2 separate regions of the Homo sapiens genome follow, and region 2 is linked to region 1. The links come from fine-mapping of genetic effects on gene expression. Tissue or cell type: aorta. Region 1 holds a variant in brackets; the other region holds the start of a gene. All regions are shown on one strand. Distances are between the middles of the regions.

Region 1 (10,245 bases):
TCAGGACTCAAGACTAGCCTAGGCAACGTGGTGAAACCCCATCTCTACTCTACAAAAAATTTAATTAGCTGGGTGTGGTGGCACACACCTGTGGTCCCAGCTACTTGACAGGCTGAGGTGGGAGAATCACTCCCGCCCAGGAGGTCAAGGCTATAATGAGCCATGATCACACCACTGCACTCCAGCCTGGAAAACACAGTGAGAACCTGTCTCAAAACAATTTTAAAAATAAAATAAAAATAAAAATAAATAAATGAGTCAGATATAAAAATAGAATCTTAGACCTTGTCTTTTTCCCCAAGAAACACTAAAAGGCAATGGTGCCTTCTAAACCCAGGTGTCTCTATTCTACTTTCACATTGCATCTAGATATGATTCAGTAATTGTTTTCTCTATTCTAAACAGATCTGAGATTTTTAAAATAACCAAATATTTAAGCAGTTTTCAATGTCAGCCATGAATCTGAAGACAAGACTAGGGTTAGGATCCTGGGACCAATCCTTACTCTACCCACTAACACTAAAGTGTGTGTATTAAAGGGTTATTTCCCTGCTTGTGAGAACTAGATTAATACAAAGACAAAAAATAAATAAATAAAAATAAAGGGTTATTTCATTTTCACTTACCTGTGGCTAAAAGTAAAACTGCTAGGCATGAACATAGAGCTCTGGTATTTTAATTTGAGGAAAAATATTCTGGGCTTTCATTCATAGTAAAAAATCATTAAGACTGCATTTATGGCAGCCTAATGCTTTGAATCAGAAAGTGAAATCAGGTATAATGGCTTATAACACTGAATGAAATTAAAAACTTTTAAAGGGGTTCAGTGGGAGAAAATTACTTACCAATTCCGCATTCTGAATTGTAATTTTCTTCTAGCTTTTTAACAAAATTGTCTATCACTGCTTTTGCTTTCGTTTGCATTGCCTTGCTGCCAAAAATTTTGACTAATGATTCTGGTTGTTCTTGTATTATCTAGGTACAAGGGGAAAAAGAGGTGAGACTTAAAATTTCCCTAAAAAACATAAAAAGTTCCCTAAGCCCCTAACCCCTTCCAACAATCACTCAACTTCAAAATCTATTACAGTATAAAGTAAATACAGTATTACCACCAATCAATGTCTAAATTTCTAGTTAGAGAGGAATACTACTTATATTTACTCTGGGATTTACCTCCTAGTCAGATGGAGAGGGGCAGGACAACCTGAACATTTAAAATTGGATAGCTAGGGAATAAACTCAGCAAATAGTGTAGAGAAATAATTAAGGCACTAACCTGACAGGTAATATTATTTTGATTCTGAGGTCTCCAACCTATAAAATGGTATTTGTTTCGCTAATTTTACAGAATTGTAGGGCTGAAATGACATAATCTATGCACTATATAGAGAGTTCACTGAACTGCCAGGTTACTTAGGTAAATTTTTAACTTGATGGGATTCTATCCTTAACTCATGTATACTGTCAGGGGCTTACGTTTACAAGACTGACACATTTTGTGAATAGAATCTACAAGTAACACCTATCAACATCCATAATTTCAAATACCCTAATGGATTCAATATTTATCTAGAAAATACTATACACCAAATTTTGTCTTAGGTTGGCAATTCAAACAATGTTTATCAACTACAGTATTTACACGCACTATAACTCTGTATGAGTGCTGAAACGAGGCCATTATGGGATGCTATGGAAATGGACAGCTACACAGAATGGGGGCCTTAGACTTCCCTGAAAGGTGAGAAGGAATTATTTATGAGGAAAAAGCTATGGTAGCAGCGTATGTCAGGAAGTGGGTGGAGTACTCAAGGAATTAGGGGAGAGGACACTGGAGAGAGTGAACAGGCCAGAATCAAGTCAGCAACTTTAAGGAGTCTAGACTTACAGGCCTGAGATACTATGAAAGGCTTTCACATAGGAAAAGGACACAAATAATTTGTGTTTTAAAATGATTGTTCTAGCCAAGCGCAGTGGCTCACACCTGTAATCCCAGCACTTTGGGAGGCTGAGGCGGGTGGATTATTTGAGGTCAGGAGTTTGAGACCAGCCTGGCCAACATAGTGAAACCCTGTCTCTACTTAAAGTACAAAAATTAGCCAGGTGAGCTGGAAGGGCACCTGTAATCCCAGCTACTCTGGAAGCTGAGGCAGGAGAATCTCTTGAACCCAGGAGGCAGTGGTTGCGGTGAGCTAAGAGCACACCAGTGCACTTCAGCCTGGGCGACAGAGCAAGACTCCGTCTCAAAAAAATATAAAAAAATAAAATTATTGTTCTGACCACAGTGGAGAATGATTAGAGGATACAAATGGAAGCAGGACATACAGTTAGTGGGGAAGGCAAATGATGACATTCCCCTTGAGAAGTACAAGAAATAGTCAAGACCTAGCGGTGAATGAGAATAAGGAAATACCAATGTGGATAGTCAGATTACAAACTTGTAAACTCAGTGAATGTTGCTACCATTCACTAAGATTGAGAATACAAGAGCTAGCCAAAGTTTGAGGAAAGGGGTTCTCTCTGGAAGGAAGACCTTTTGGACATGATGAATATTCCAGTGATCTCATTCTTATGCAGATTATCTCTAACGATTTTTACCTCCGAATATTCCAGTGATCTCATTCTTATGCAGATTATCTCTAACGATTTTTACCTCCGACTGGGCCTGGTGGCTCACGCCTGTAATCCCAGCACTTTGGGAGGCAGAGGTGGGCGGATCACCCGAGGTCAGGAGTTCAAGACTAGCCTGGCCAACATGGTGAAACCCCATTTCTACTAAAAATACAAAAATTAGCCAGATATGGTGGCGGGGGCCTGTAATCCCAGCTACTCCAGAGGCTGAGGCAGGAGAATTGCTTCAACCCGGGAGGCAGAGGTTGCAGTGACCCAAGATCGTGCCACTGCACTCCAGCCTGGGCGACAGAGTGAGACTCTGTCTCAAAAAAATAAAAAAGATTTTTACCTCCAAGAGTCCCAAAACCTACACCTGGAACAGCTTAAAATTCAGGTGGCTTCTTGAGAATAAGGAGTATGAAGAACTTTGGCAACTTACCTAATTTACCCTAGTATGTTAATAACTCAGCAGAAATTAGAGTTAAGGCCTGGTGCAGTGGCTCATGCCTGTAATCCCAACACTTTGGGAGGCCAAGGCAAGTGGATCACTTGAGGCCAGGAGTTGAGAGCAGCCTGGCCAACACGGTAAAACCCCGTCTCTACTAAAAATAAAAAAATAAAATAAAATAAATTAGCTGGGCTTGGTGGTGGGAACCCGTAATTCCAGCTACTCAGGAGGCTGAAGCAGGAGAATTGCTTGAACCCAGGAGGCAGAGGTTGTACTGATATCACGTCACTGCACTCCAGCCTGGGAGACAGAATGAGGCTGTCTTAAAAAGAAAAGTAGAGTTAGGTGCTCCCTTAGAAATGCATGATGCTCTCTTAAGGGCCGAAAAACACAGATGGCTTACTTGGATTGTGGTGTTTGTTGTACTTTGTATATTCTTTATTTTTGACCCACCACGACCTGTTTTTAAAAATAAAGGAATATATTGTTATAAGTTGAAATTAGTAAGTTGAAAATTTACCCATTTTCCTCAACAAACATTCTCTAGTTCTTCCCCCCAAATGCTCCTAGGGTTCAACAATCATTTTTTGTTTGGAAAGAGGGAAGTAAGAGGTTCTATTCCAAATTTTGGTGGGTTTTAGGAGACTCTTATCCCAGACAGGTGGAGACTATGGATTCTGTATCAGCTTGCACAAAACTTAATTGGGTCCAAACTGGTGGAGAGGATGTAGAAATTGGAACTCTTTCATACAACTCAACAAATAAGTTTTGAAAAATGGGCAAACACTTGAATAGACATTTCTCCAATGACATACAAATGGCCAACAGGCATGAGATGTTCAACATCACTAATCAGGTCCACGCAAATCGAAACCACAAAATGATTGTCACCTCACATCTGGTAGGATGACCATTATCAAAAACAGAAAAAAAGTGTTGGTAAGAATGTGGAGAAATTGGAACCCCTGTGTACTGTTGGTGGGATTGAAAATGGTGCTGCCACTATGGAAAACAGTATAGATTAACTAAAAAATTAAAAACAGAATTAACATATGATCCAGCAGTCTCACTTGGGGTATACATCCAAAAGAATTTAAAGCTGAGTCTCAAAGATATATTGCACTTCCATTTTCATAATAACACTACTGAAATCAAAAGGTGGAAGCTACCCATTTATCATAGACTGATTAATAGATAAAGTAAGGTATATACTTAATAATGGAATACCATTCAGCCTTAGTAAGGAAAAAAATCCTGTCTCATGCTACAAAATGGGTAAGCCTGGAGGATATTATTCTTAGAGAAATGAGCCAATTACAAAGACAATTACTGCATGATTCTACTTATATGGATTACCTAAAGTAATCTAACTCAGAAACAATGTAAATGGTGGGTCCCTGGGATGGGGCAGGAAAAAATGGGGAGCTGTTCAATGAGTATACAGTTTTAGTCATGCAAGTTCCAGAGATCTGGGATACAACATTGTGCTTATTATTAGTATTGTGATATACGTTTAAAAGAGGGTATTTCATTTTTTACAATAAAAAAGATGGATCCAGATCCAACATCAAGTGAGTGCTCTGTAGCACAGTGCCCTTTCATCTGCTAAGTATTAACTTAAGTGATTTTTATTGCAAACCTAGTGGCTTTCTTTCTTGGAGCATCATTCTTCAGATCTGAGCCCAAGCCTTCTGAAAGGCCAATGAGTCTCTGGGTAGTACAGCAATTAGTCTTACAATGCACTATTTTGTAGCAGCCTCCATCTATTCATTTTTCTCAGGTTTTAAAAAGGGTGAAATACACCTAATAGGTAAAATGTGGCAATTTATACTCGGGCTTAATGGCAATCAATGGGGTAATCATTCTAATCATTTTTAAATGCTTTTCAAAAAAATTCAGAAATGGGCCGGGCTTACGCCTGTAATCTCAGCACTTTGGGAGGCCGAGGTGGGTGGATCCACAGGAGTTCGAGACCATCCTGGGTAATATGGTGAAACCTCATCTTTACTAAAAACACAAAAATTAGCCAGGTGTGGTGGCGCACGTAATTTCAGCTACTAGGGAGGCTGAGGTGCTAGAATCGCTTGAGCCCGGGAGGTGGAAGTTGTAGTGAGCCGAGATCACGCCACACTGCACTCCAGCTGGGGCCACAGAGCTGCCTCAAAAAAAAAAAAAATCAAAAGAAAGAAAAAAATTAAAAATTCAGAATTGAATGTTAACACTCAAGATGTAGTAAGAAAAGTTTTTAACTTTTTAAAAATTAAGGAAACTAAAAGCAAGATACAACTGCTCTAGGCAGCCCTACAATGACCTTATAGCTTTTCTTTGATTTCTGGCTCTAAATGGTACTCATAGAAAGACTGATTAAGTTTTGTTTTTCATTCTGGGGTTAGCTGTCTGTTAAAAGGCCTGTTCTAAGCATCCCTCTTCAGCCCTAAGATTTCATAAGTCTTCTAGGAGTTGCTCTCCCAAATACATTGTCTGTATAAACACCAAAAGGTGGATTAAATTACTTTTTTTTTTTTTTTTTAATTGAGACGGAGTCTTGCTCTGTCACCTAGGCTGGAGTGCAGTGGCGCGATCTCAGCTCACTGCCAACTTCTGCCGCCGGGTTCAAGCCATTCTCCTGCCTCAGCCTCCGGAGTATCTGGGATTACAGGCGCGCGCCACCACGCCCAGCTATTTTTTTTAATATATATATTTTTAGTAGAGACAGGGTTTTGCCATGTTGGCCAAGCTGGTCTCGAATTCCTGACCTGGGGTGATCCGCCCGCCTCGGCCTCCCAAAATACTGGGATTACAGGCGTGAGCCAACGCGCCCGGCCAGATTAAATTATACTCTATCCCCAGGTTTTACAAATAGCTCTGGGAGAGACCTGAACCTCACTAGGTGGCAGCTGATTGGAGGTGAGGCAGTGGGGAGGAAATGCCTTCGCCCAGGCTCCGCCCCTGGCCCCACCTATCCTGCCCTGCCAGCCACTCCCATTCTCACCGATTACCGCGCCAACAAAGTGGCTCTTCAAAGCAAAACACAGCGGCAGTTCCTCGTGACCAGCGGCCACGGCCTCCGGGGGCCTAGAGGTGCCTCTCCAGCGACCACCTCTGCCGACACTATATCCCTCAGGACCTGTTCGATTCAACTCCTCCGCCGGCCTCCTCTCTGGCGCTCGGGACACTGTCGAGCTTCGCCGACTAGCAACGACCCACGTAGAGGCCTTGGGAGCTCCTCCGTGGTGGGACATTGTTCCAAGAAGGGGCGCGTCCGACGTCGTTGCCGTCCAGCTCTGCACCACCTGACCGTGACGTCGTAAGA[G/C]TAGCGTGCCAGGGAAGCCACGCAGCCGCTACTTAAGGAGCCCGCACGAGGCTAGCCCCCCCGCCCACGCTCTCTATCCCGCCCACTTCGCACTGATTTCACGCAGCCATTGGCCAGTGAGCGTTGTGGGCGGGACTTTCCCAGTTTTAGCCAATCGGTTTTCTGAACCGTGGGAGTGTGCCTTGAAGTAGTCGATGTGCCCCGCCCCCCACCCCCCCACTGTGTATTCCTTTCCAGGCGTGGGACTTTTTCCAAACGCCCAATTTGCTCCCTCCCCTACTGGACACACACCTCGGGTTCCTGGCATCTCAGTGCCTTGGAAACTTTTTTTTTTCTTTTTAAATAGAGACGGGGTGTCGCCGTGTTGCCCAGGCAGGTCTTGAACTCTTGGCTTCTGGCTTCAAGTGATCTTCCAGCCTCGGCCTCCCAAAGTGCTGGGATTACAGTCAGCCACTGCACCGGAAATGTTTTCAACCGTGACCCATAAAGGTAAGTCACTGTTACAAGGTGACCCAATCCACACATAAAAAACTTGAAACAACAGATTGACAAAACAGCATTTATCCTCGCTATGTAAGCTGCATTTTGATACATTTACGCTTATTTTAGTTTTTGAAATGGTTGTAATCCACAAAATTAAAAAAAAAAAATTTAATAGAGATGGGAGTTCCCAGTATGTTGCCCAAGGCTGGTCTTGAACTCCTGGACTCAAGTGATCCTCCCACCTCCACCTCCCATAGTGCTGGGGTTACAGGCCTGAGCCACTGCACTCGGCTCACAAAATGTATTTAATGGCCCACAGCTTAAAGATCACTGACTTGATCCTTTTGTAAGTCATAAGTGTGATTGGGTTTTCATGCTCTTGTGTCAAATGTGCCTCCCTCAAACCTTGTTACGAAGTGGGCACACTACCCACCTGATGTGAAAAATGAAGAGAAAAAGATCACTGGCTTGAGAGACATTCATTGCTCTACACAGTCTTCTGGATGTTTGCTATGTTTTTTTTGTTTGTTTTCTTTTGTTTTGTTTTTGACCTCTGTCGCCTAGGCTGGAGTGCAGTGGTGCGATCACTCACTGCAGATTCGACCTGTTGGACTCAAGTGATACTCCCACCACAGCCTCCCGAATAGTTGGGACTACAGGTGTGCACCACCATGCCAGGCTAATTATTTTGTAAAGACAAGACCTCCCTATGTTGCCCGGGCTGGTATCCAACTCCTCCTGCCTTGGCCTCACACAGTTGAGGGATTACAGGTATGAGCCACAGTGCCTGGCCTGCCATAATTTTAGAGCTAAGGAAATAAATTGAATAGATTCCTGAAGCATTACCGTCACTGCAGCCTGGCTCTGTGGCTGGACATACTACTACTCCAGGGCTTCAAGCCAGCTGCAAGTGCACTCCTTTGATTAGGATCTTTGAATTATCTGAACAAATTTCAGTTTAGGCCAGCAGGGATAACTCATACCTGTAATCTCAACACTTTAGGAGGCCTAGGCGGAGGATCTCTTGAGCCCCAAGGTTCAACATCAGTCTGGGTAACATAGTGAGACCCTGCCGGGTGTGGTGGTACAGGCTGTAGTCCCAGCTACTCAGGAGGCTGAGGTGGGAGGATCACTGAGCCAGGGAGGTTGAGGCTACAGTGAGCCGAAGTGCCGAAATGGTGTCACTGCACTCCAGTCTGGGCAACAGAGCAGAGACCCTGTCTCAAAAAAAAAAAATTTTTTTTTTTTCAGTTCAATCATCCATCAAACACAGTGGACACCAGGCCAGGCATGGTGTGGCTCATGGCTGTAATCCCAGCACCTTGGGAATGTGAGGCAGGCAGATCACTTGAGGTCTGGAGCTCGTGACCAGCCTGGTCAACATGGTGAAACCCCATCTCTAATAAAAATGCAAAAAATATTGGCTGGATGTGGTGGCTCATGCCTGTAATCCCAGCACTTTGGGAGGCAGAGGCGGCTGGATCACAAGGTCAAGAGATCGAGACCATCCTGGCCAACATGGTAAAACCCCATCTCTACTAAAAATACAAAAATTAGCTGGGCGTGGTGGTGTGCGCCTGTAGTCCCAGCTACTTGGGAGGCTGAGGCAGAATAATTGCTTGAACCCGGGAGGCAGAGGTTGCAGTGAGCCAAGATTGTGCCACTGCACTTCAGCCTGATGACAGAGCGAGAGACTCCATCTCAAAAAAAAAAAAAAAAAAAAAAAAAAAAAGATTACCTAGGAAATAGGCCAGGCGCGGTGGCTCACACCTGTAATCTCAGCACCTTGGGAGGTTGAGGTGGGTAGATCATCTGAGGTCAGGAGTTCAAGACCAGCCTGACCAACGTGGTGAAACCCCATCTCTACTAAATACAAAAAATTAGCCAGGCATGGTGGCGAATGTCTGTAATCCCAGCTACTTGAGAAGCTGAGGTGAGAGAATTGCTTGAACCTGGGAGGCAGAAGTTGGCAGTGAGCCAAGATTGCGCCATTGCACTCCAGCCTGGGCAACAAGAGTGAAATTCCATCTCAAAAAAAAGATAAAAAAACATTAAATAAATGATAGGCATTTAATCTCCATTCTCTAATCTTTAATCTGAAATGGGTAGTATTAACAATCTTTAGAAAGGAATTTTGTTGGATTCAACGTGCTGAGATTTTATTAAGGATTTTTGCATCTATGTTAGTCAGAAATACTGGTCTGTACTTTTCTTGTAATGTCTTTGACTGGTTTTAGTATTAGGGTAATGCTGGCCTCATAGAATCTCTTCCAGAAAGTAGAAGCAGAGGGATACTTCCTAACTCATTCTATGAGGCCAAAATTATTCTAACACTGAGAGTGAACCTTCACGTAAACTAGGAACTTTCAACAGCCAGGAAGGACATACCCATCAAAGACAATAACCATGACTCATAAACAATGGCTTCCAGTGCTTTGAAGAAACCTCAGGTGCTTGTCACTGACCTGTGTTCGTGAACTAAGAAATGGGAATATGTGGGCTAAGAAATAGTTTCTCTTGATAAACAACACTTATAAAAACCTCTCCTTTTCATGGTGCCTCAGAGACAATCAGCTGCTTCAACATGAAGCTGAATGTCTCCTTCCCAGCCTCTGGCTGCCAGAATCTCTTTGAAGTGGATGAGGATTGCAAATGTCATACTTTTTCTGAGAAGCTATAGTCACAGATGTTGATGCTGATGCTCTAGGTGAAGAATAGAAGGGTTATGTGGTCGGAATCAGTGGTGGGGACAACAGACGAGGCTTCCTCATGAAGCAGGGTATTTTGACCCAAGACTGTGTCTGCCTGCTACTGAGTAAGGGGTATTCCTCTCCTCCAAGGAGAACTGAAGAAAGAATGCACAAATCTGTTCAAGGTTGTATTGTGGATGCCAATCTGAGTATTCTCAACTCAGTTATTGTTAGAGAGAGAAGGCTAATCCTGAACTGCCTGATAATATACTGCCTCATCCCCCGGGACCCAAAAGAGCTAGCAGAATCCAAAAACTTCAATTTCTCTAAAAAGATGATGTCCACCAATATGTTATAAGAAAGCTCTTTGTTATAACAAAGATAAGACACACAGGGCCAAAGCACCCAAGACTCAGTGTGTTGTTACTCCTCATGTCCCGCAACACAAACACCTGGCTTATTGCTCTGAAGAAACAACCTACTAAAAAAAATAAGGAAGAGGCCACAGAATATACTAAACTTTTGGACAAGAGAATAAAGGAAGCCAAAGAAAAACACCAGGAACAAATTGCCAAGAGACACAGACTGTCCTCTCTGAGAGCTTCTGAGTCCAGCCAAAAATAAGCCCGGCGGATTTAACATTTTGATACTGTGTTCTCACGTGGTGAGGAAAGATATCTAAGATGGTAATTCCAGGT
Region 2 (9,122 bases), 27 kb after region 1:
GCGCAGTGGCTCAAGGCTATAATCTCAGCACTTTGGGAGGCCGAGGTGGGTAGATCACCTGAGGTCAGGAGTTCGAGACCAGCCTGGACAACATGGTGAAACTCCACCTCTAGTAAAAATACAAAATTAGCTGGGTGTGGTGGTGCATGCCTGTAATCCCAGCTACTTGGGAGGCCTAGGCAGGAGAATCACTTGAACCCAGGAGGCGGAGGTTGCAGTGAGCCAAGATTCGCCATTGCACTCCAGCCTGAGCAAAAGAGCAAAACTCCGTCTCTAAATAAATAAATAAATAAAAAATAATTGCATACTTAAAATCTTCTGGCCCTGGCCAGTTGCAGTGGCTCATGCCTGTAGTCCAACATTTTGGGAGGCCAAGGCAGGAGGACTGCTTGAGCCCAGGAGTTCGAGACCAGCCTGGGCAACATAGGGAGACCTCTGTCTCTACAGTGGGTGTGATGGCATGCACCTGCCTCAGCTACCCAGTGAGCTGAGATCGTGCCACTGCACTCTAGCCTGGGTGACAGAGTGAGACCCTGTCTCAAAAAAGAAAACAAAAGAAGAGAAGGAGCCCTCTTCCTTTCTCCGCCATCGTGGTGTGTTCTTGACTCCGCTGCTCGCCATGTCTTCTCACAAGACTTTCAGGATTAAGCGATTCCTGGCCAAGAAACAAAAGCAAAATCGTCCCATTCCCCAGTGGATTCGGATGAAAACTGGAAATAAAATCAGGTACAACTCCAAAAGGAGACATTGGAGAAGAACCAAGCTGGGTCTATAAGGAATTGCACATGAGATGGCACACATATTTATGCTGTCTGAAGGTCACGATCATGTTACCATATCAAGCTGAAAATGTCACCACTATCTGGAGATTTCGACGTGTTTTCCTCTCTGAATCTGTTATGAACACGTTGGTTGGCTGGATTCAGTAATAAATATGTGAGGCCTTTCGTTTTTAAAAAAAAAAAAAAAAAAAAGGAAAGAAAAAGAGAAGGTGAGAAAGAATCTTCCGGCCCTTAAGAGCTCTGTGAAACGTCAGTTTGCTCTGGCCGCTTTCCCATTTTGATCTCGGGCTGGCGTCAGGCCCACTGCAGGATCCCTGGCACCCCAAGAAGCTAACCCAGATGGCGGGAAAAGTGTTCTATTAACCCAGCCAAGTTGGCTCAGTGCATCTCTCCACCTCAGTCTCTGGTGTTGGCTTCCATGCACTCGGGAAAACTGCCCACTTGTCCCCAGGCTTCCAAGGAGGCCCACGTGACTGACTGAGCTCCCAAAAGGTTTTCTTGCACAATAGCCCTCCTGTTTTGGCAGGCTCAGGTGCAAAGGCCTATCGGTCTCCCCAAAGCTGAGAGATGCGAAACCAACACTTGCGAATCAGATTCTGGCCTCTCACTGAGCAGGGAGGTTCTTTCCTCAGGGGAGAGCAGTAATCCCACAGGATCATTTCTTCCTTGAGGAAGAAATAACTGAACTAGCCACTGTTGGGCTACACCTGAGACTGAGTTGTATCTGAGACTAACTGCTTCACGGTGTCCAGCATGCTGGGGATTTATGTGGGGTTTATGGCAGAAGATCCCCACAAGATAATGGGGTGCCATCTTTTCCACACCAGGAAGTGGAATTTGAGAGAAGTTAACTTATTCCTGTGTGGCTCAGATCACCACAGTCCCCCTAAAGAAGCTGTTAAAATTCTATACATGCTGGGTAAAATATTCTTTGTCTACAGTAATGTAAGTGCGTCTCATGATTAGATTAAGGCTTTAATTTTTTTAGGTTTATTTTTAGGGTCTCGCTCTGTCACCCAAGCAGGAGTGCAGTGGTGTGATCATGGCTCACTGCACCCTCAAACCCCTTGGCTTAAGCGATCTGCTAGCCTCCACCTCCTAAAGGGCTGGGATTACAGGCACGAGCCACAATATCTGGCCTTGATTAGGTTAAGGGGTTTTTGTTTGTTTTTTGAGATGGAGTCTCACTCTGTAGCCCAGGCTGGAGTGTAGTGGTGCCATTTTGGCTCACTGCAACCTCTGCCTCTGGGGTTCAAGCAATTCTCCTGCCTCATCCTTTCGAGTAGCTGGGATTGCAGGTAACCACCACACACTGGCCAAATTTTTTTATTTTTATTTTTTTTTATTTTTGAGACAGAGTTTTGCTCTTGTTGTCCAGGCTGGAGTGCAATGGTGTGATCTTGGCTCACGACAACCTCCGCCTCCTGGGTTCAAGTGATTCTCCTGCCTCAGCCTCCTGAGTAGCTGGGATTATAGGCATGCACCACCATGTCCGGCTAATCTTTTGTATTTTTAGTACAGACTAGGTTTCTCCATGTTGGTCAGGCTGGTCTCGAACTCCCGACCTCAGGTGATCTGCCCGCCTCAGCCTCCCAAAGTGCTGGGATTACAGGCATGAGTGACCGTGTCTGGCCCACACCCATCTAATTTTTGTATTTTTAGTAGAGACCGGTTTTCTCCATGTTGGTCAGGCTGGTCTCAAACTCCTGACCTCAAGTGATCCTCCTGCCTTGGCCTCCCGAAGTGCTGGGATTATAGGCATGAGCCACCTTGCCTGGCCAGGTTAAGGTTTTAAATGTTTATTGCATCAGAGCCATAGCTAAATCTTGTTTTCCTGTAAGTATGCCCTGCACACCTGATAGTCAAGTTTTCTCAGAAACCATTGAGGGTGAGAGGGGGTGGGATCAGGGGCAGAAAACTGGAACCTCCACACAGTCCTAGATGATCATGTGGAGTCTGGAACATGCTTTTCACTATTTTGAGTTTTTTCTTCTATGCTGGCTGTGGTGGCTCACGCCTGTAATCCCAGCACTTTGGGAGGCCAAAGTGAGAGGACTGCTTGAGCCTAGGAGTTCAAAACCAGCCTGGCAACATAGTGGGACCCTGTCTCTACAAACAGACAAACAACAACAACAACAAAAAGAGCTGGAAAATAGCTGGGTGTGGTGGCAGGTGCCTGTGGTCTCAGCTACTCAGGAGGCTGAGATGGGAGGGTCGCTTAGGCCTGGGAGGTCGAGGCTTCAGTGAACCGAGATCGTGCCACTGCATTCCAGCCTAGGCAAGAGAGTGAGACCTATCTCAGAAAAATAGAAGTTTTAAAACAAACACATAGTTAATTGTAAGAACGAAATAGTATATTCAGCAGATACTATTCTGAAACAACCAAACAATATTTCTACAAATATAGTAGAAAATGTGTAAGGACATGCATGGGGATGATATATACACACTAGCTTCAGGATGATTTCCTCTGGAGAAGGAAAGGAAAGATGCTTGAGTAATATCTGTTTTAAAAACAGAGGAGTGAGGCAAATGTGGGGAAATGTCAACATCTGTTAAACTCGGGGAGGGTACATGGCCGTGTTATATTACTTTTTTGGATGTGTGAAACCTTTCATAATCCAAATTTTTAATTAAAATTACAAACATTGGGAAAAAATGTCCATCGATAATGGTTGTCTTAGGATACTGGAAATAAAGGAAAATTGTCTAACTTGCTACATGTTCTATAAGACCACCTCTGACGTGTTGTTTAAAACATGACACACTTGCTTGAATGATTTAAAAATGGTAACCATCCGGAGAGTCAGAAGATAACAACAGGGAGCAGAACAGAGAAAACTGACACATTGAACAAGCCTGCCCTGGGTCCGATATACCTATCTTTGGGAGGCAACGATGAAACCTTAACCTAGCCAGCAAAGGTGATTCCCAGTCTATTAATAGAGTCGTCAATTCAAACTCACACTGTTAATCAGCTATAAGGTGGGCAGAGGACTTTCAGGCTAAGCATACCTTACGAGCAGAGATGACGAAGGAGAGCATTGGAGACCCAACAGGAGGCCAAATGAATACTAGTTCAAGGTCAAAGAGGCAATCCCGGCGATTGAAGCAGCGCAGGAAGTGTCCAATGGTGCCGCTATGCCGGGGCGTCGCTTGCACCCGCTCACCCCGACGCGGTGCGAGGCGCCGCCGGAAGGGGCGGAGCGGGTCGAATATGGTAAAAGAGAGCCCGAGCTTCGCGCCTGGGTCTGGAAGAGGTCTTGCGAAAGCCGCCTCGAGCGCGCTCCGCGGCTGCTGGTCCCAGTATGGTCGATGATGCTGGTGCCGCTGAGTCCCAGCGGGGCAAACAGACTCCGGCCCACTCCCTGGAGCAGCTGCGTAGGTTACCACTTCCGCCGCCACAGATTCGCATCCGGCCCTGGTGGTTTCCGGTGCAGGAACTGAGAGACCCTTTGGTGTTCTACCTAGAGGCATGGCTGGCAGACGAGCTCTTTGGTGAGCGACCCCAGGTGTGCTAGTGGGCTGTCCACCTCCAGTCTGAGAGAGGCTTGGCAGAGCAGCTCTCTACAGTCTCTTTCCCAGATTCGCAAGCCAGGAGTGTTGCAGTGATGCCCACCTTCCAGTTCTTCCCTTCCCTGGCCAACATTCCCTTCAAATCCAGCTTCTAACCTGCCACCGTGCAGCCCCTCAGAGTTTTTCCTTACTTGTTTAGGCCCAGACCGAGCCATAATTCCAGAAATGGAGTGGACGAGCCAGGCCCTGCTGACAGTGGACATAGTGGACTCAGGGAACCTAGTCGAAATCACCGTTTTCGGGCGGCCCCGTGTACAGAATCGGGTGAAGAGCATGCTCCTGTGCCTGGCATGGTTTCACCGAGAACATCGTGCCCGAGGTGAGGGTCTTTGAGAACCTGCATGTGGAGGAAGCCACGAGTGACCATACTGGCCTTGCTCGGTTTCCTTCCATCCTCCCTTAACCTTCTCAAAATTTCTTGGTTTCCAGACCCCAGGGAGCTAGCTGTACGAAGTTTGTTGGGAGGGGATCCTGGGGTAGGACCTTGGGAAAGTCAGCAGAGATCTGATAGATTCAGACCCATCACTGCCCAAGTCAGCCTCACCTGGGTTACAGCACTATCGCAGATCTTTCTCTCCTCCCCAACTCCCAGTCACGGAGTAGTTCGAAACAGCAAACACTTGTCCCTGTCCATGGTTAGTATCAACTGCTTCTCTTCCAGCTGAGAAGATGAAACACCTTGAGAAGAACTTGAAGGCCCATGCATCAGACCCCCACTCTCCCCAGGATCCTGTTGCTTAAGACAACATAGTTACTGTTGGGAACATCTTAACTTTCTAACTTTTGCTGCTAAAGTTGAAGAAAAGCAAGTATAGCATTCTTAAATCCCCGTATTCCTTTTTCCTGTGTCTTGATGGATTGTGGTTTATTTTGTTGCAAGAGTGAGTTTGAACTATTCTAATAAAGAAATGGCTATTTTGCCAAAAGCATTAAGATCTTCACACACTTATAATAAAGCAAATTTATAAAAGATTGACTCCCACTCATGTTTTGATATGAAGGGTGGGCAGGTGATAGTTTTGTAGGTTTTTGTTTTTGTTTTTTTTTCCTGAATTCCCATCATTTTGAAACTCCTAATCCTTTTATGATTTTCTGGTCAGAGAGAGGCCCTCACCCACAGGGAGCGGATATGCAGGGGCAGATAACCTCACAAATGGTGATCTGTTTTGTTTTTACATAATTGGTCCTCAAACTTTAAAGCTTGTAAGAAATCACCTTGGGAGCTTGTTAAAACACAATTTCCTTGGCTCCTTCTCCAGAGAATTCTGATTCAGTACTTTTGGGGTGGGGCTTAAAATTTCATTTCTGATGAGCTCACACATACTACTAAAGCAGCTTATCTGAGGCTCTCACTTTGAAGCTGGTAATTGATCCCCCGAAGAGCACCAGCTGTGCGTTTTCCTGGAGTGGGGCATCCATTGGGCAGAGGATGACGTTGCAAGAAGCAAGCCTGGGCGGTCAGCGTTCATTAATGGTAGTTTTCGATTTACCACGGAAGAGCAGGGTTCCCAGGCACCTTGGCTCGTGGATGGCGCCCTGCCTTGGAGCCGGCTGTCTACCTTTTTCTACAAGGCGAGGCTGCACGGGTGTCCGGCATGGGCCAGGTTGTTTTTCCACTACGTGTTGTACTGAAATTACCAATCTCTGCAAAACAGCTCCTATCCTTGCCGCCCCACTTTCTGGAAGTAGAATTTTTGGGGCGAAAGGTGCCAAAAGCCCTGTGGGTTCAAGCACAGTTTGGATTGGTTTGACTCATGGAATTTATTCACTCCTTGGCAATAAAGTATTCTAGCCTTTTGCAAGCGTTTTAAACTCACAAGTCTCTTTAATTGTGCTTTTTTGATTAGAGGTGATGTTGAATATTTTCTTTGTTTCAGTTTTACATTTTTCTTTATTCATTCCTTTTTTTTTTTTTTTTTTTTTTTGAGATGGAGTCGCTCTGTCCCCCAGGCTGGGGTGCAGTGGCGCAATCTCGGCTCACTGTACGCTCCGCCTCCCAGGTTCACCCCATTCTCCTGCCTCAGCCTCCCGAGTAGCTGGGACTGCAGGCGCCCGCCACCATGCCCGGCTAATTTTTTTTTTGTATTTTAGTAGAGACGGGGTTTCATTGTGTTAGCCAGGATGGTCTCCATCTCCTGACCTCGTGATCCGTCCACCTCAGCCTCCCAAAGTGCTGGGATTACAGGCGTGAGCCACCGTGCCCAGCTTTCCTGGTGAGATTTTTATTGTTTATTTTTATTTATTTTTGAGATGGAGTCTCGCTCTGTTACCCAGGCTGGAGTGCAGTGGTGTGATCTCGGCTCACTACAACCTCCGCCTCCCGTATTCAAGCAATTCTTCTGCCTCAGCCTCCCAAGTATCTGGGATTACTGGCATGTGCCAACACACCTGGCTAATTTTCGTATTTTTAGTAGAGACGGGATTTCACTATGTTGCAAGGGTGGTCTCAAACTCCTGACCTCAGGTGATTCTCCTGCCTTGGCCTCCCAAAGTGGTGGGATTAGAGGCGTGAGCCACTGCACCTGGCCCTGGTGGGATTTTTATTTTTATTTATTTATTTTATTTTATTTTTTGAGACAGAGTCTCGCTTTGTCACCCAGGCTGGAGTGCAGTTGCACGATCTTGGCTTACTGCAACCTCCGTCTCCCAGGTTCAAACGATTCTCTTGCCTCAGCCTCCTGAGTAGCTGGGATTACAGGTGCGTGCCACCACGCCCAGCTAATTTTTTGTATTTTTAGTAGAGATGGGGTTTCACCATGTTAGCCAGGATGGTCTCGGTTTCCTGACCTCGTGATCCACCTGCCTCAGCCTCCCAAAGTGCTGGTATTACAGGCGTGAGCCACCGTGCCTGACCCCTGGTGGAATTTTTATAAAACCATTGAACATTTTGGGTTTTTGTTGAGACAGTCTCACTCTGTCACCCAGGCTGGAGTGCAATGGTGCAATCTCGGCTCACCGAAACCTCTGCCTCCCGGGTTCAAGCGATTCTCTTGCCTCAGCCTCCCGAGTAGCTGGGATTACAGGCACCTGCCACCATGCCTGGCTAATTTTTGTATTTTTAGTAGAGAATGGCCATTCTGGTCTCGAACTCGTGCCCTCAACTGATCCACCTGCCTTGGCCTTCCAAAGTGGTGGGATTACAGGCATAAGCCACTGCACCTGGCCCATTAAATATTTTGTTATTGGGGAAAAAGGGGTAAGCTTAAAACTTATTCTAATTTTTCCAAAAATACTGTATGATCCTAAACTCCTTCCATCCTTTGTACACATTAACATATATTGAAGTCCTAATCCCCAGTACCTCAGAATATGACTATATTTGGGCAATATTTGAAATCTTTGACTCTCAAGACTCTTGGCATAGGGCAACCTCTCCTGTTCCTCCATGCTGGGCAGCTGGCTTGGCTTGATGGCATCTATAATTCCAGCATGATATAGAGTTTCCATTTACTGGGTGTTTAGAGAAAGAAGCAGCCATATGAATAGGTGAAACTTAAAGTGTCAGTTCCGGGAAAGATGTTCATAGATATTTTGGATATGAGTTGAAAAGGTTGTGAGGGCCGGACATGGTGGCTCAGGCCTGTATTCCCAGCACTTTGGGAGGCTGAGACAGGTGTTGACCAGCCTGGCCAACATAGTGAAACCCAGTCTCTACTACAAATAAAAAAAATCAGCCAGGTGTGGTGGTGGGCGCCTGTAATTCCAGCTGCTCGGGAGGCTGAGGCAGGAGAATTGCTTAAACCCAGGAGGTGGAGGTTGCAGTGGAATGCCGTTGCATTCCAGCCTGGGTGACAGAGTGAGACTCCATCTCAAAAAAAAAAAAAAAAAAAAAAGAGTAGACTTGCCCTCTTAAATATTAAAACAGTCTATAAAGCTACTTAATTAAAATGGGGGTAGATATCAGAAAAAGTAGAAAAGTTACACATGAACATAAAATAGATTGGTAACACTGAGTTTGGGCAAGGACAGTGAAAACAGCTTGTAAAGGAGAGAACCTGACATTCTGGTAAGGTGGGTATTACACAGAGAAAGACAACATACACATTAAGTTTTAGCTCTGCTCTGATGTAGCCTCATTTGAAACTGATTTTGTGTTGATTTTGAATTTAAAGTGTTCTAAAGTTCTTCTAAAATTAGTCAACTATTTTAATAAAATGATTAGCGGTTAAAAGTTGCTAATAAGTTATTGTAAATTCAGCTTTATGTGGTAATTCCCTTATTGTAAGATACATGATTATTTTAAACTGGAGTGATAATTAGCGGTGACAAAAAGAGTCTGATAGACATTCACCTTATATTTAAAGTTAGCTTTGAACTTTTAAAAATTACTAGTGATTGGCCGGGCGTGGTGGCTCATGCCTGTAATCCCAGCACTTTCGGAGACCCAGGCGGGTGGATCACCTGAAGTCAGATCAGCCTGGCCAACATAGTGAAGCCCCTTCTCTACTAAAAACACAAAAATTAGCTGGGCGTGGTGGCGCGGGCCTGTAGTCCCAGCTACTCGGGAGGCTGAGGCAGGAGAATCGTTTGAACCCAGGAGGCAGAGGTTGTGTTGAGGCGAGATCGAGCCGTTGCACTCCAGCCTGGGCCACAGAGAGAGATTCTGTCTCCAAAATAAAATGAAGATTACCAGTGATTCTTGGTTGGTTAAAAAAAAAAAAAAAAAAAAAAAAAATCCTAATTATAGAATTACTGCGTGCTATTGTTTAATCCTAGCACCCAGCTGTTGGCTTGCATCCTTCTAGATTAATTCGCAGGCTCAGG

The links. PIP is the estimated chance that this variant, and not a neighbour inherited with it, causes the effect.
Region 2: it holds the start of OOEP, and the variant in region 1 is fine-mapped to the expression of OOEP in aorta (GTEx, PIP above 0.99).

The regions. Positions count from the first base shown.
Region 1 is chr6:73,390,964-73,401,208 of GRCh38, reverse strand. DDX43 (DEAD-box helicase 43) reads right to left here and starts at 6,381. Exons shown (of 17, transcript NM_018665.3): 1 at 6,054-6,381; 2 at 3,465-3,520; 3 at 846-975. The coding sequence starts at 6,303. It overlaps LOC124901538 (small nucleolar RNA U13), which reads left to right and starts at 7,196; the gene lies at 7,196-7,296. It also overlaps a transcript of OOEP not described here and the pseudogene RPS6P8. RefSeq lists enhancers at 2,206-2,863, 6,264-6,764. The variant G/C (reference allele first, on the strand shown) is at 6,375.
Region 2 is chr6:73,364,761-73,373,882 of GRCh38, reverse strand. OOEP (oocyte expressed protein) reads left to right here and starts at 3,986. Exons shown (of 3, transcript NM_001080507.3): 1 at 3,986-4,280; 2 at 4,498-4,677; 3 at 5,020-5,328. The coding sequence starts at 4,091. The coding sequence ends at 5,099. OOEP-AS1 (OOEP antisense RNA 1) reads right to left here and starts at 4,179. Exons shown (of 2, transcript NR_174946.1): 1 at 3,798-4,179. It also overlaps the pseudogene RPL39P3.